3 linked regions of the Homo sapiens genome follow. The protein of the gene in region 1 interacts with the protein of each later gene in a pairwise test. Each region holds a gene or a part of one and is shown on either strand. Other genes may lie near its edges. The genes, in order: TRIM69, ZNF483 and WASHC1.

Region 1 (3,655 bases):
ATACTGTGCTTTTCCGACGGGCTTAAAGAACGGTGCACCAGGAGATTATATCCTGCACCTGGCTCGGAGGGCCCTACGCCCATGGAGTCTCGCTGATTGCTAGCACAGCAGTCTGAGATCAAACTGCAAGGCGGCAGCGAGGCTGTGGGAGGGGCGCCCACCATTGCCCAGGCTTGCTTAGGTAAACAAAGCAGCCGGGAAGCTCGAACTGGGTGGAGCCCACCACAGCTCAAGGAGGCCTGCCTGCCTCTGTAGGCTCCACCTCTGGGGGCAGGGCACAGACAAACAAAAAGACATCAGTAACCTCTGCAGACTTAAATGTCCCTGTCTGACAGCTTTGAAGAGAGCAGTGGTTCTCCCAGCACGCAGCTGGAGATCTGAGAATGGGCAGACTGCCTCCTCAAGTGGGTCCCTGACCCCTGACCCCCTAGCAGCCTAACTGGGAGGCACCCCCAAGTAGGGGCAGACTGACACCTCACATGGCCGGGTACTCCTCTGAGACAAAACTTCCAGAGGAATGATCGACAGCAGCATTCGCGGTTCACGAAAATCCACTGTTCTGCAGCCACCGCTGCTGATACCCAGGCAAACAGGGTCTGGAGTGGACCTCTAGCAAACTCCAATAGACCTGCAGCTGAGGGTCCTGTCTGTTAGAAGGAAAACTAACAAACAGAAAGGACATCCATACCAAAAACCCATCTGTACATCACCATCGTCAAAGACCAAAAGTAGATAAAACCGCAAAGATGGGGAAAAAACAGAGCAGGAAAACTGGAAACTCTAAAAAGCAGAGCGCCTCTCTTCCTCCAAAGGAACGCAGTTCCTCACCAGCAACAAAACAAAGCTGGATGGAGAATGACTTTGACAAGTTGAGAGAAGAAGGCTTCAGATGATCCAACTACTCCGAGCTACAGGAGGAAATTCAAACCAAAGGCAAAGAAGTTAAAAACTTTGAAAAGAATTTAGATGAATGTATAACTAGAATAACCAATACAGAGAAGTGCTTAAAGGAGCTGATGGAGCTTGCTGTATTCAGGAAACCCATCTCACATGCAGAGACACACATAGGCTCAAAATGAAAGGATGGAGGAAGATCTACCAAGCCAATGGAAAACAAAAAAAGGCAGGGGTTGCAATCCTAGTCTCTGATAAAACAGACTTTAAACCAACAAAGATCAAAAGAGACAAAGAAGGCCATTACATAATGGTAAAGGGATCAATTCAACAAGAAGAGCTAACTATCCTAAATATATATGCACCCAATACAGGAGCACCCAGATTCATAAAGCAAGTCCTGAGTGACCTACAAAGAGACTTAGACTCCCACACAATAATAATGGGAGATTTTAACACCCCACTGCCAACATTAGGCAGATCAACGAGACAGAAAGTTAACAAGGATACCCAGGAATTGAACTCAGCTCTGCACCAAGCGGACCTAATAGACATCTACAGAACTCTCCACCCTAAATCAACAGAATATACATTTTTTTCAGCACCACACCACACCTATTCCAAAATTGACCACATAGTTGGAAGTAAAGCTCTCCTCAGCAAATGTAAAAGAACAGAAATTATAACAAACTGTCTCTCAGACCACAGTGCAATCAAACTAGAACTCAGGATTAAGAAACTCACTCAAAACCGCTCAACTACATGGAAACTGAACAACCTGCTCCTGAATGACTACTGGGTACCTAACAAAATGAAGGCAGAAATAAAGATGTTCTTTGAAACCAATGAGAACAAAGACACAACATACCAGAATCTCTGGGACACATTCAAAGCAGTGTGTAGAGGGAAATTTATAGCACTAAATGCCCACAAGAGAAAGCAGGAAAGATCCGAAATTGACACCCTAACATCACAATTAAAAGAACTAGAAAAGCAAGAGCAAACACATTCAAAAGCTAGCAGAAGGCAAGAAATAACTAAAATCAGAGCAGAACTGAAGGAAAAAGAGACACAATAAACCCTTCAAAAAGTTAATGAATCCAGGAGCTGGTTTTTTGAAAGGATCAACAAAATTGATAGACTGCTAGCAAGACTAATAAAGAAGAAAAGAGAGAAGAATCAAATAGAAGCAATAAAGAATGATAAAGGGGATATCACCACTGATCCCACAGAAATACAAACTACCATCAGAGAATACTACAAACACCTCTATGCAAATAAACTAGAAAATCTAGAAGAAATGGATAAATTCTTCGACACATACACCCTCCCAAGACTAAACCAGGAAGAAGTTGAATCTCTGAATAGACCAATAACAGGCTCCGAAATTGTGGCAATAATCAATAGCTTACCAACCAAAAAGAGTCCAGGACCAGATGGATTCACAGCCGAATTCTACCAGAGGTACAAGGAGGAACTGGTACCATTCCTTCTGAAGCTATTCCAATCAACAGAAAAAGAGGGAATCCTCCCTAACTCATTTTATGAGGCCAGCATTATCCTTATACCAAAGCCGGGCAGAGACACAACCAAAAGAGAGAATTTTAGACCAATATCCTTGATGAACATTGATGCAAAAATCCTCAATAAAATACTGGCAAACTGAATCCAGCAGCACATCAAAAAGCTTATCCACCATGATCAAGTGGGCTTCATCCCTGGGATGCAAGGCTGGTTCAATATACGCAAATCAATAAATGTAATCCAGCATATAAACAGAACCAAAGACAAAAACCACATGATTATCTCAATAGATGCAGAAAAGGCCTTTGACAAAATTCAACAACGCTTCATGCTAAAAACTCTCAATAAATTAGGTATTGATGGGATGTATCTCAAAATAATAAGAGCTATCTATGACAAACCCACAGCCAATATCATACTGAATGGGCAAAAACTGGAAGCATTCCCTTTGAAAACTGGCACAAGACAGGGATGCCCTCTCTCACCACTCCTATTCAACATAGTGTTGAAAGTTCTGGCTAGGGCAATTAGGCAGGAGAAGGAAATAAAGGGTATTCAATTAGGAAAAGAGGAAGTCAAATTGTCCCTGTTTGCAGATGACATGATTGTATATCTAGAAAACCCCATTGTCTCAGCCTAAAATCTCCTTAAGCTGATAAGCAACTTCAGCAAAGTCTCAGGACACAAAATCAATGTACAAAAATCACAAGCATTCTTATACACCAATAACAAACAGAGAGCCAAATCATGAGTGAACTCCCATTCACAATTGCTTCAAAGAGAATAAAATACCTAGGAATCCAACTTACAAGGGACGTGAATGACCTCTTCAAGGAGAACTACAAACCACTGCTCAATGAAATAAAAGAGGACACAAACAAATGGAAGAACATTCCACGCTCATGGATAGGAAGAATCAGTATCGTGAAAATGGCCATACTGCCCAAGGTAATTTATAGATTCAATGCCATCCCCATCAAGCTACCAATGACTTTCTTCACAGAATTGGAAAAAACTACTTTAAAGTTCATATGGAACCAAAAAAGAGCCCGCATCGCCAAGTCAATCCTAAGCCAAAAGAACAAAGCTAGAGGCATCATGCTACCTGACTTCAAACTATACTACAAGGCTACAGTAACCAAAACAGCATGGTACTGGTACCAAAACAGAGATAGAGATCAATGGAACAGAACAGAGCCCTCAGAAATAATGCCGCATATCTACAACTATCTAACCT
Region 2 (3,655 bases), on another chromosome or scaffold:
CATCATCCCAGCAAGATCCGTTATTCCAGTTTACAGTTAATCTCCCGTCCAACCTCTAATCCCAGGCACCCACTACTCAGTCGACTTTGTGTCTCTAGAGTTGTCTTTTTCTGTACATTTTATGTTATATGTGATCTTTCTGTGTTTTTTTCATTAATGTGTTTTAAGTTCATCCATGTTGTAACATACTAGTACTTTATTCCTTTTTATCATAAATAATATTACATTATGTGGATGCTTCGTGCATTCACTAGTTGAAGAACATTTGAGGTTTTTCCAGTTTTTGCCTGTTAGGAATAATGCTGCTTTGAACATTGGTATGCAAGTGTTTTGAACGTTAGTGTACAAGTCTTTGTGTGGACATGTTTTCATTTTTCTTAGGCAGATGCCTGAGGGGAGTTGCTAGGTCATACGGTAAATTTTCATTTAACTTTTTTAGGAAACTGCCAAATTGTTTTCCAAAGTGACCGCATTATTTTACATTCTGACTAGTAATGTGTGGGGCTTCCCATTTCTCTACAGTCTTGCCAGTCATTGTTGTCTGTTTTTTAAAAATTATGCCCATCCTAGCGTTTGAAATGATATTCCTTTGTGGTTTTAACTTTGATTTTCCTGATGGCGAATAATGTCAAAGCATCTTTTATGTGCTCTTCAGCCATTCATGTATCTTAGTGAAATGTTTATTCAGATTTTTTGTCCATTTAAAATTGGAGTTTGCTGATACTGTGTTGTAGTCCTTTTTATTCTGGATATAAGTCCTTTATCCAATATGAACTTTCTAAATACCATGTACTAGCTACAGAGAGCAGCCCAAACTCTGTTGGATAATATTTATCAAAGTCTTGATTTCAGTAGTTAAGTCTGTATAATTGCCTGCAGGACATTCAGTCTGGCCCATCACCCAAATATTTAAATTCACTTTTGGATTAAGTCAGATTATCAAAAGGCTTTAAACGTCTTTTGATTCATTATAGGATTGCTTTTATGAAGAGCACTGTGACACATTTTACTTTAAAATGAAGTCCTTGCTTTAAATAATGTTTCCTCTTAATGAGCGTGTATAAATTTTTTTCATGTCACAGGACAAGGCAAGGTTTTGGTCAATAAAGTCATTTTATTTATTTTAGAATTATTTTTTAATGTAGTAAGATACATATAGCTTAAAATGAACCATTTAAACACTTTTTGGTTATACAGCTCAATAGCATTTAGATAGATGCACATTTTGTGCAGTCATCACCACTATCCATCTCCAGAACTTTTTCATCATCCCAAACTGAAACTCTGTACTCCTTAAACAGTAACTCCCCATTTTCTCCTCCTCAGGCTCCTGGTAACCACTGTTCTACTTCCTGTCTGTACAAATTTGACTGTTCTAATTACTTGGTATGAATGGAATCATACAATATTTGCCCTGTTGTGTTTGGCTTATTCCACTTAGCATTATGTTTTCAAGGTTCGGCCGTGTTGTAGCACATATCAGAATTTAATTCCTTTTTAAGGCTGAATAATATTCCATTTTACTTGTATACCACATTTTGTTTATCCTTTTATCTGCCAGTGAACATTTAAGTTGTTTGCACCATTTTGGCTATCAAGAATAACATTGCTATAATCAGTGGTGCTTTCTGTTCTTTTAAGTATATGCCTAGAAATAGAATTGCTGGATCTTATGATGATTCTATATTTAACTTCTTGAGGAAGTGCAACTACACTATTTTAAATTCCCACCAGCTATGTACAAGGGTTTCAGTATCCCCGCCCTTGCTAACACTTATTTTCTATTTCTTTTTTATAATAGACATCCTAATGGGTTTGAAGTGGCATCTTATTCTAGTTTTGTTTTGCATTTCCCTAGTGATTAGTGATGTTAACTGTCTTTTTATGTGCTTATTGACCATTTGTATCTCTTCTTTGGAGAAATGTTTATTGAAGTCCTTTGCCCATTTTTTAATTGGTTTTGTTGGCGTTGTTGTTTAGTTGTAGAAGTTCTTAATATATCCAGAATATATAAAGAACTTTTCAGATAAATGATTTGCAAATACTTTCTTCCATTCTGTGTGGGTTGCCTTTTCATTCTATTCCTAATGCCCTTTGAAAGAAGGTTTTAATTTTGGTGAAGTTTAATTTTTCTATTTTTTCTTTTGTTTCCTGTGCTTTTCTGGTCATACCCAAGAAACCATGGCCAAATCCAATGTCATGAAGCTTTTCTCCTATTCTAGGAGTTTTATAGTTTCAGGTCTTATGTTTAAGTCTTTTAACCATTTTGATTTTTATGTATGGTAAAGGGTCCATCTTCATTCTTTTGCATGCGAATATCCAGTTTTCCCAGCCCCATCTGTTGAAGAGACTATCCTTTCCACATCATGTATTCTTTGCACTCTTGTCAAAGATCATTTGACCATATACATGCATGTTTATTTCTGGCTGTCTGCTCTGTTTCTTTGGTCTATATGTTTGTCTTTATGCCAGTACCATGCTATTTTGATTACTCCAGTAATGTTTTGTAATCAGGATTACACTACGTTTCCTGTAGTATGTTTTTGAAATGAGGAAGTGTGAGGCCTCCAGCTTTGTTCTTTCCCAAATTGTTTTGGCTATTTGGGGGTCCTTAAGATTTCAAATGAATTTTAGGATGGTTTGTTTGTTTTTGTGGAAAATGGCATGAAGATTGGGCTTGCATTGAATTTGTAGATCGCTTTGGGTAATGTGGACATACTAACAATAACAAACATTACAGTCTGTGAACCCCAGGTGTCTTTCCATGTATTTGTGCCGTCTTTAATTTTTTCAGCAATGTGTTACAGTTGTCATTGTACAAGTCTTTTGCCTCCTTGGTCAAGTTTATTCTTGAGTATTTTATGTTTTTGATGCTGTTGTAAATGGGTCTTTGTTAGTGAAGCATAACTGAGTTTTGAGTGTTGATTTTGTATCTTGCAACTTTGCTGAATTTGTTTATTAGTCATAATAGTTTCTTGTGAAATTTTTGGGATTTTTAAATATAAGATTATGGCATCTGCAAATAGATAATTTTTCCTTCTTCCTAATTTGGATGGCTTTAACTTGCCAATGGCTCTAGCTAGGACTTCCAGTACTGTGTTGAATACAAGTAGCAAAAGCAGGCATCTGTGCCTTTTCCTGAAATGCTTTCTATTTTATATCATTCCGTATGATGTTAGCTGTGGTCTTTTCATATTTGACCTTTATTATGTTAAGGTAATTTCCTTTTATTGATAAATTCTTGTTTGAAGGACAGTTTTGCTGTATATAGAATTCTCAGTTGACAGTTTTTTTTTTTTTCTTTCTGCATTAAGAGTATAACAACGCCACAGCCTTCTGGCTTCCAAGGTTTTTGATGAGCAATCAACAGTCTCACTGAGGATTTCTTTTATGTGATGATTTGCTTCTCTCTTGATGCTTTTGAGATTCTCCTTTTGTCTTTGGATTTCAGCAGCTTGATTATAACTTGTCTTGGTGTCTCTGTGGGGTGAGGGTAGGAGTCAATTGCAGTGCTTGTTGCCATAGTTCAGAACCTGCACCACAAAGACCCTTCCAGTTCTGTAGAGTGGTTTATTGCTTTATTATCAGTGCAATAGAGAGTCACTGAGTCACTGGAGGTTCTCTGTGTGTGTGAGTGTATAAATAAAGATTTAAT
Region 3 (3,655 bases), on another chromosome or scaffold:
ATGGGAGAACTGAGGCACAGAAATAAGTTAGGACAGCCAGCAAACTTGCATCAGTATAAATACAAAGAAGGGGAGGGAGGAACATGCTTGAAAGGGGTGTGCTGGTCTCAGAGGGTTGGGTTTCTCAGTTGGCTGGGCATCAGCTGGCCATGCTTTAGTTATTTGATGGGAGGAAAAATAAGTGGGAGGTGAGGAGTAACTCCTGGGCTCTGATGAGTATTCAAGGCAAGTACAGATCTGGAAAGCCTGTATGCAAAGGAGGAACTCACTGAAAAGTGCTGGCCTGAGGAGGGCAGAAGGGAGGGCTGGGGAAGCCAGCAGCGGGAGCAAAGGAGTAGGCTCCAACTGGGTGAAGATGTTGGTGTGGTGCGTTATGTAAAATATACAAATTATTATTGGAAATAACCACGTCTCAGCAGTGCTAGTTCTCAGTTTGGAGAATGGGAAATCGAAAGGATCAGATTCAGAGACGGCAACTTACTCAAGGTCACAGCATTTTAAACCCAAGTGAAATCTCCTAGGCCCTTCATGCCACACTCATCCATCCATACCTACTTGTGTTGCAACCAAGGGCCCCACTGTAGTGCCTAGGGGAGCAGGTCTAGGGCACAGTGCCAGGCCTGATTAATGTCTTCCTTACCATTTTCCAGTGAGGGGCTGTGATTAGGCCTATTTATAGGGGCCTGGTCCCTTAATATTCTGCCTGGTGCATCTCTTGCCAATCAAATCAGTGCTGTCTGCAGTGTGATTGCTGCTTTAGTGGCACCAGGGAGAGGAGTTAATTAAACCCAATATAAATAGACTCTGCCCTCACTTTGCAATTCCAGGAGTGTTTTTCCTTCCTGTCCTCCACCCCCACAGGCACCTCTTTCCTCTTGTCCCCCTAAGCTCTAGCCTGGGTGAGCAGGGCTGGATACTCCTATACCTAGAGTCACTAGCCACTGCCCAGTCTGTTTCAGGAGCAGGCCTCAGATTCCTCAGGGGTTAAAGTGGGAAGAACCCGTGTGTGCACATTTTTTGTGCTTTTCCAGAACTGTGTACCATTTGGCAGTTGATCAGGCAATCTCCCCTGCTACCCCATTTCTACCCCTTTGTTTCCAGCCTCTTTTTTCCTCTGCAACCAAGGTTTCTTGTTTATCCAAGGTGGGGAGCTGAACTGAGACAAGGTATGGAAAGGGTGCCTGGCAGGTAGCAAGCACCTTGTAGGGGGTCAGAAATGTTGCACCTTCTCTGAACTCCTCCATTGACCCTACAGATTCCCCAGTCCCGGGCCCTGCCCTTTCCCTCATTCACTCAGCAGGCATCAGCAGAGTCCCATCTATGCGCTCCTGGCCTCTCAGCAAATGCTCTGTCCCCTACTCCCCTATCTGTGCAGGCTGAAGCTATGTGCATAGTTGGGATGAGGGCTGTGTTGTCTCAACACCACGCTGCCCTGTGGTGGGGGCGTGCCGTTGGTCGTGGGTGGCTCTGACGCTCCGGCTCCGACCCACAGGCACCATGACTCCTGTGAGGATGCAGCACTCCCTGGCAGGTCAGACCTATGCCGTGCCCTTCATCCAGCCAGACCTGCGGCGAGAGGAGGCCGTCCAGCAGATGGCGGATGCCCTGCAGTACCTGCAGAAGGTCTCTGGAGACATCTTCAGCAGGTGGGTGCTGCCACTCACCCCCACCTGATGAGAGGGCCATCCCTGTCCTGGGCAATCCCAGCAACACACCCTCTGGGAGCAGCCCCCTTGGGGAATCCCGGTCCTGGGGAACCCATCTGGCTTCCCTGTGTGGGAGGGGCTGAAGTGAGAGCCCAACTTGGAAGCTTTTACTCCTGGGAGTCCGAGAGCTCACTCCCTTCCACCCCACTTAGCCTCCTGGTTTCCTGTGGTGGCTCTGCTCTCACAACTCATGCTTTTCCTCCCATTGGAGGGCCTATTCCTTCACGTTTTCCTGCAGCCAACAAATATTTACCCAGCAGTGCTCGTGTGCAAGGCAGTGTGGGAATCTCTATATATCCAGCCACGGATAAGGCAACATACCTCTCCACCTGGAGCGCACATTCTGGCAGGAGAGAAAGACCTAAATAAGCAATAGATGATTAGTTCTTCAATAACAGTTGTGACAAGGTCTATTGATAATATTTTGTAATCACTAATATTCATATAAACCGTGCACAACCATTGATTTGAGTGCATTAACTCACACTTCATGAGCAGGCACTGCCGTCATCTCATTTTATAGATGAGGAAACTGAGGCACAGAAGGGCTGAGAGACCTGGCCTAGTGACAGAGCCAGGATTCAAAGCCATAGATCATGGCCCCGGGTTATGTAGGTTATTACTGCATCTGTTCAGGGGAGATGGGGTACTGTGAGGCTCGTCATGGGAAGCCTGGCTTGGTCTCAGGTCAGGGAAGGCAGATGTGAGGAAATGACATTTATGGTAAAGTCTGAGGGTTGAGTGGGTAGGTTGGGAAGAACATTCCAGAAAGAAGCACATGAACTACAGCCTGGAGGTGGAGGACCTAAAAGGAAGCCAGCATGGCTGGAGCACGGAGTGGCCATTGAGGGAGGCGAGCTGGAGGGCTGCAGCTTCTTGTATTGGCAGTGCTGACCTCGCACAGTCCTTGGGCTCCAGTGACTTCACTCAGTGTTTATCTAACATGAGTGAGTGAATGGTGTTTGCTGTTTTTTTGGTAAAGGTCCCAGGGGTTGTCGGGTACACAGGTCCTGTCTTTGGCCATAAGCAAACTGAAATGAGGCTTGGTCTCCTTCCCAGGATCCCACACCATGTCTCACATGGTAGACCCCAGTGGGAAGTATGTGACTGCCTGACTCAGGTGCCTCTCGTGGTCCAAGCCATCCCTGCCCTGTCCCTTCCCTGGTTGTCGCCAGACCTGGAGCCCCTGCTCCTTCACTTTGCAGCCTCCTCTTCTGTCACCAACTGGGAACCCACCTCTTCCTGAAAGTCCTCCCCCACTGACTCACCGGCTTGCCCCGAGTTTGTCAAGAATGTCTCAGTAACCAGGGGACACACAGTGAAGTGACTGAGGGGTTACCTTGGAGTTGATGCCTTGGCTCAGATCCAGCTCCCCTGTTTTCTTCCTCTGTAACCTTGGGCAACCCAACCCCTCTAAGCCTCGGTGTTCTCATTTGTGAAGTTGTGGTAATAATGGTAGCTTCCTGGTAGAATTATTTTAAATATTAAATTAATCAAAACATGCAAAGGAATGGAACAGTGCCTGGCACCTAGGAAGCCTTCAGGAAATGCTATCTCTTCCCTGTTGATAATCTTGACCCGTACACTGCCTTTGGTTGCCATTCATAAACCTGCCACCAATAGTAACAAAGTGCTGGATGCACCTTTTGTGCTTATCTTTGTGCTAAATGTGCCCGAGGGACACCTAGGGAAGAGGATGCAGGTCTTTAAGAGCCATCAGCTCCAGATTATGGCCACCCCATGTCCAGCACTTAGAATGGAGGCCAAAACCATTCCCTCGGAAATTGTGTTTCCTTGCCAAGATGGGGACTGCGTGGTTGCCCTTCTCTGAGGGCAGCGCTGGATTTTTGGCGTCTTTCCTTTCCTGTCCTGGTACTTGGCACCTTGTAGACAGTTGCATGTCCCCTGCCCAGGGATGGGATGAGGAGAGGGCAGGAAGGCATTTCCTG

Evidence for each region.
Region 2: the proteins of TRIM69 (region 1) and ZNF483 interact in a two-hybrid assay, tested with the Homo sapiens proteins (one large-scale study listed by BioGRID).
Region 3: the proteins of TRIM69 (region 1) and WASHC1 interact in a two-hybrid assay, tested with the Homo sapiens proteins (one large-scale study listed by BioGRID).

The regions. Positions count from the first base shown.
Region 1 is NC_000015.10:44,739,528-44,743,182, forward strand, and holds part of TRIM69 (E3 ubiquitin-protein ligase TRIM69), read left to right. Parts: intron 1-3,655.
Region 2 is NC_000009.12:111,545,531-111,549,185, forward strand, and holds part of ZNF483 (zinc finger protein 483), read left to right. Parts: 3' UTR 1-3,655. UniProt on the Homo sapiens protein: May be involved in transcriptional regulation.
Region 3 is NC_000009.12:22,842-26,496, reverse strand, and holds part of WASHC1 (WASH complex subunit 1), read left to right. Parts: exon of another isoform or gene 1-1,166; intron 1,167-1,489; exon of another isoform or gene 1,490-1,492; coding exon of another isoform or gene 1,493-1,497; coding exon 1,498-1,646; exon of another isoform or gene 1,647-3,655. UniProt on the Homo sapiens protein: Acts as a component of the WASH core complex that functions as a nucleation-promoting factor (NPF) at the surface of endosomes, where it recruits and activates the Arp2/3 complex to induce actin polymerization, playing a key role in the fission of tubules that serve as transport intermediates during endosome sorting.